Linked DNA regions of Homo sapiens. The protein of the gene in region 1 binds, or shares a complex with, the protein of each later gene. Each region holds a gene or a part of one and is shown on either strand. Other genes may lie near its edges.

The links. Proteins that work in one complex are often made in the same cells at the same time.
Region 2: MKS1 (region 1) and B9D1 share a complex: the UniProt entries of both Homo sapiens proteins name them as parts of the tectonic-like complex.

The regions. Positions count from the first base shown.
Region 1 is NC_000017.11:58,204,787-58,207,098, forward strand, and holds the end of MKS1 (tectonic-like complex member MKS1), read right to left. Parts: coding exon 2,299-2,312; intron 1,762-2,298; coding exon 1,679-1,761; intron 1,595-1,678; coding exon 1,497-1,594; intron 1,385-1,496; coding exon 1,293-1,384; coding exon of another isoform or gene 1,204-1,292; 3' UTR 655-1,203; downstream 1-654. UniProt on the Homo sapiens protein: Component of the tectonic-like complex, a complex localized at the transition zone of primary cilia and acting as a barrier that prevents diffusion of transmembrane proteins between the cilia and plasma membranes.
Region 2 is NC_000017.11:19,349,130-19,352,783, reverse strand, and holds part of B9D1 (B9 domain-containing protein 1), read left to right. Parts: intron 1-3,654. UniProt on the Homo sapiens protein: Component of the tectonic-like complex, a complex localized at the transition zone of primary cilia and acting as a barrier that prevents diffusion of transmembrane proteins between the cilia and plasma membranes.

The DNA.
Region 1 (2,312 bases):
TGAGGCTGCCTTGTCTCCCTGGAGCAAGTGCAGGCTGCTGACGCTTCTGCTGGCTACAGCTCAGAGCTGGGTTCCCCAGCCAGGAGTGAAGGCTGGGGGCTCCTATCAGCAATGGACCTTCCCGCCTTGGGAGCCTCTTAGGTATTAGGCTATGAATCAGCGCCACGTGCAAAGGCTTGGGAGCCAAGCCATGTGGTCTTGCACCCCAGGCAAGAAAAGTCAGCTGGAGGGTTTACAGCACTTTCTACTGTTTCCCAGCCCTCCCTCCCCTCCCTCACCATGACTAAGAGACCACTCGGTCCTAGCCTCCAGACACCCCACAATACTCCTCTGAGCCTGAGGCCAGGCAGCATGCTCTGCTTCTACCAATAAAGCACTGCTAAGGGCAGGGGCTGCTGTTTCTGTGTTGGGCTAGGGAAGACGTGGCCTCAGTTCCATGCTTTGCTCCAGATGTTTAAGAGAAGTGCTGTTAACACGCAAGCTGGCACAACCATCTAAGCCTCTCCTGGGGGCTGAATTAGGAGAGCCCAAAGAAACACTGTGGAGTAGGGAAAGGCAGAAAAGGGGAAGGGCAGACATGGTAGGGGCCCCGACATTAAGAACACCCTAGCCATACCAGCAACCTGAGCAGACAAACAGCCAACAGAACATCAGTCAAAATAAAAGGGGTTTATGTAACAAAAAACAAAAAAACAAACAAACAAAAAAACACAGTAAAAGATACCACCCAGCTAGCAGAAAGGACTCAGCACTGCCTTCAGCCTTCACTTACTCAGAAATAACTCATATCTCAACCTCAGCAAGCCCCAAGCAGTAGAATGAGGCTTCCCTGGAAAGAGGCTGAGACTCACAGGCTGGGGATTTAAGACCCTCTCACCGTCCACCTTCCTTCCTTCTTTGGTCTTGGAAGATGAAAGGCTCCATTTTTAAAGGGTGGAGAACAGCAGATCCCCTGCTACTGTGAGACAAGCCAGAAAAGTGAGTCAAGGCCAGACTCACTATGGGGTCACCCCAAACAGCTTCAGATCAAAAAGCCTGCCTTGCTGTGATGCCCATTGACAGTGGCTGCAAATATAAAGGGGGGGCCACAGGGTCTCTGGCTTTATTTCCACAGGGTAGGGAGAAGACCCTGCAGAAGGCTAGGCAGAGGGGCCAGCCGGGAATTTCCCAGCTTTTCTGGTTCTCAGCAGACCAACGTGGTCTCTAATCAGAAAGACGAAGAGGCAGGAGAGCACTGGCCTCAGATATCCCCCATCTTGTCCTCTTGCACTGTGGGCCAGGGCTGCTGTGAGCTAGGAGACCAGGGTTCCAGAGGGGCTCACTAGGTCCTGCGGGAGGCTTTCCCGGGCCTCCTGCATGCGGCGCCGGGCTCGACGGAAGGCCTCTGTAAGGAAAGGAGATATGCTATTTGGCTGCCATATGGTATTTCTCTCTGCACTGCAGAGAGAAACAGGCCCATGCTGACCTGGGGTGGCCAGCTGGGGGAGGGGACATACCTAGCACATTGTGAATGGAACTCTGCTGGCTGAACCCTTCCAGACGGTCCAACACACTCCGCATCCTTTTCTGAAGGGAGCTCGATTCCATGAAGGCCCTGCAGGGAGGCCAGCCACATGGTTACGGCTGTCTCCACCCCTCAGGGCTAAGGTGCCCTGAGGCAGAGGGCCAAGTCACTCACCTGGACTGCTGCAGACAGTGCAAGCGGAAGGTGACAGTGCCTGTGGTCTCTGTGCGGAGTCCAAAGCGGCTCAGGCGTTCCCCCTGTGGCATGCCATTGGGACAGCCTCAGGTTTCTGCTCTCTCTAGACACCCCCGCACCATGCTGGCCTCACCCCCATTCTTATTCCCATTCTTGGGAAGCGCAGTTCTGTTGGGGAAACCTTATTCCATCACCCAGACTCTATTACCTCAAGGCTAATACTGGGCTATTGGGCTCCCCCAACTAAACCAGGGAACATTCCAACCTCATTTGAGAAGCGGCGGTCTTATATGCTTACTGTGAATCCTCCCCACATCTGATTACTGAGGCCTTCAGTGATGGGGGAAAGAGCCAGTTATTCTGATGGGAACCAGGGGAAATCTCTAATTATACTATTTTCCAGAGACCTCCTACGATAGCAGTGTAGATATTGGAACCTGATTCAAAATGTGGTCATGACTTCCAGCTTAAGCCACAGGAAGGAAGGGGTTAATACTGAAGCAATGCACAACTAAGGGGTCTTGACCCAGATCCCACCTCCTACAGAAGGACAGGACCATAAGTTCTCAGCGTGAAGTCACTCCAAAGACAAAAGTCACCTTGAAGGATCCTG
Region 2 (3,654 bases), about 39 Mb from region 1:
TTTGGGAGGCCAAGGCGGGCGGATCCCCTGAGGTCGGGAGTTCGAGACCAGCCTGGCCAACATGGAGAAACCCTGTCTCTACTAAAAATACAAAATTAGCCAGGCATGGTGGCACGTACCTGTAATTCCAGCTACTCGGGAGGCTGAGGCAGGACAATCACTTGAACCCGGGAGGTGGAGGTTGCAGTGAGCCAAGATCATGCCATTGCACTCCAGCCTGGGCAACAAGAGCGAAACTCCGTCTCAAAAAAAAAAAAAAAAAAAAAAAATTAGCCAGGCCCGTGGCAGGTGCCTATAATCCCAGCTAATGGGGAGGCTGAGTGAGGCAGGAGAATCACTTGATCCTGGGGGGCAGAGGTTGCAGTCAGCTGAGATTGTGCCACTTCACTCCGGTCTGGGCGAAAGAGTGAAACTCAATCTCAAAAAAAAAAAGAAATTAGTAAAAGAATAGCAAGTTAAACCCAAAGAAAGCAGAATAGAATGAGAAACAGCAGAAATTAATTCATTAAACAGAAAGCACACTTACAACAGAAGAGATGAAAGAGGCAAAAGTTGGTTTTTAAAACTGAAAACCCCAAGTTAAGACGATGAAAAAACAGGCTAAGTGGGGTCACTCACACCTATAATCCCAACACTTTGGGAGGCTGAGGCGGTAGGATCGCTTGAGCCCAGGAGTTCAAGACTAACCTGGGCAACATGGTGAGACCCTGTCTCTACAAAAAATAGAAAAATTGGCCAGGCACAGTGGCTCAAACCTGTAGTCCCAGCTACTCGGGAGGCTGAGGTGGGAGGATTGTTTGAGCCTAGGAGTTTGGGGGTGTAGTGAGCTATGATCATGCTACTGCACTCCAGCCTGGGTGCCAGCGCTAGACCCTATCTCTAAAAAATAATAAGAAGAAACAGAAGACAGAAATGGCAGGAATGAAAAAGGAACATGTTACAGATCTTGCAGACAGTAAAAAGATAAGATATAAAGAACAGCCATTTGCTATACATTTGGCAAGGTAGATGAAATGGTCAGATTCCTAGAAAAAGATAACTACCAAAACTGCAAAAAAGGAATAAGAATCTGAGTAGTCCTATGTCTATTAAATTGAATCTATAATTAAAAATGTTCTCACAAAGAAAGTTCCAAGTCCGAGTGTCTTCATCACTGAGTTCCACCAGGCATTTAAAGAATGACACCTTCCATGGCAGAAGTGTAAGAAAAAAAAGAAGAGGAAGTAACGACAGATTTACACAAACTCCTAGAATTGAAAAGATTAAACATTCCCCAGCTTTTTTAGGTCAGCATAGTTTTGATTCTAAAGCCTGCTGAGGACATTAAAAAGAAGAAACTCCTTCATGAACAGAGTTGCAAAACTCCCAAACAAAATATTCAGAAACTGAATTCAAAACTCCTAAATGAAATATTCAGAAACTAGCAAGATAAAAAAAGGATAATATAATACATCATGAGAAGTAGGGTTTATTCCAAAAATACAAAGGTTTTATGACATCTATAGTTGGCCAGGCACAGTGGCTCATATGGAGGCCGAGGTGGGAAGATTGCTTGAGGCCAGGAGTTTGAGACTAACCTGGGCAACGTAGCAAGACCCTGTCTCTAAATAATTCACCACATTAAAAAGAAGAAAAGTCAGAGTCAGGCCAGGCACCATGGCTCACACCTGTAATCCCAGCACTTTGGGAGGCCGAGGCAGGCAGATCATTTGAGGTCAGGAATTTGAGACCAGCCTGGCCAACATGGTGAAACTCCTTCTCTACTAAAAATACAAAAATTAGCCGGGTTTGGTGGCGCACGCCTGTGATCCCAGCTACTTGGAAAGCTGAGGCAGGAGAATCGCTTGAAACTGGGAGGCAGAGGTTCCAGTGAGCCAAGATTGCACCACTGCACTCCAGCCTGAGTGACAGAGCAAGACTCCATCTCAAAAAAAAAAAGAAAAAAAAAATCATGATCATCCCCATAAATGAAGAAAACACATGGTAAAATTCAACTCCCATTCATGATAAAAGCTTAGTAAACTAGGAATAGAAGGAAGCTTCCCTAACCTGATCAAGATTATCTATGAAAAGCTTAGAGCAAACATCACTTTTACTGGTGAAATGTTGAAAGATTTTTTCTGCAACCTCGGCCTCCTGGATTCAAGCGATTCTGGTGCCTCAGCCTTCCAAGTAGCTGGGATTACAGGCATGCACCACCATGCCCGGCTAATTTTTGTTTTTGTTTTTGTTTTTATTTTTGAGATGGAGTCTTGCTCTGTCTCCCAGGCTGGAGTGCAGTGGCACGATCTCAGCTCACTGCAACCTCTGCCTCCTGGGTTCAAGCAATTCTGCCTCAGCCTCCGGAGTAGCTGGGACTACAGGCACATGCGACCACACCCAGCCAATTTTTGTATTTTTAGTAGAGATGGGGTTTCACCATGTTGGCCAGGCTGTTCTTGAACTCCCATCCTCAGATGATCCACCTGCCTCAGCCTCCCAAAGTGCTGGGATTACAGGTGTGAGCCACCGCGCCTCGCCTAATTTTTGGATTTTTCATAGAGAAGGGGTTTTGCCACGTTACCCAGGCTGGTCTTGAACTCCTGGCCTCAAGTGATCTGCCACCTCAGCCTCCCAAAGTGCTGGGATTACAGGCATGAGCCACTGCTCCCAGCCTGGTCTTTTTTTTTTTTGAGACAGAATTTCGCTCTGTCGCCCAGGCTGGAGTGCAGTGGCGTGATCTCAGCTCACTGCAAGCTCCGCCTCCCGGGTTCACGCCATTCTCCTGCCTCAGCCTCCTGAGTGGCTGGGACTACAGGCGCCCGCCAGCCTGGTCTTTTTAATAAATGGTGCTGGGACAATTTGATATACATAGGAAAAAACTTCAGCCTGTCCTCATACACACAAGTCAATTTCAGATGGATATGTAGCATAGAGGACTATAGCCATGATATCAGGGTAAGGGAAGATTTTCTGGCAGGACTCCATGAAGGAGAAGATCAATGAAGTTGACTATATTAAAATTAAGGGCTTATGTTCATTCAAAGACATCACTAAAAATGAAAAGATAAGTCACAGGATAAACACACATATACACACTATAAATCAATAAGAAAAAGGCCAGGCCAGGCAAGGTGACTCACACCTGTAATCCCTGCACTTCGGGAGGCTGAGGCAGGAAGATTGCTTGAGCCCAAGAGTTTGAGACTAGCCTGGGCAACATAGTGAGACCCCATCTCTACAAAAAATTTAAAAATTAGGCATGGCAGCACACGCCTATAGTCCCAGCTACTTGGGAGGCTGAGGTGGGAGGATCACTTCAGCCCAGGAGGTTGAGGTTGCAGTGAGCCATGATTGCACCACTGCACTCCAGCCTGGGCAACAGAGCAAGACCCTGTCTCAAAAAAAAAAAATGTTTTTAATGAAGAAAAAAGAAAAAGACCATCAAGTAGAAAACCGGGCAAGAGACTTGAGTAGGTTCTTCACAAAAGAGGACATCCAGGTGACCAAGAAACAGGTAAAGGTCTCAACCTTATTTCAGTAAGAAAAATCTAAAATGAAGGAAAATATAAGTTAAAGCTACAGTGAGCTACCACTATTCTCTCACTAGGACGGCTCAAATTTAAAAGATTGGTAATGCCATGTTTTCGTGAGGTACAGAGGAGCAGGAATCAG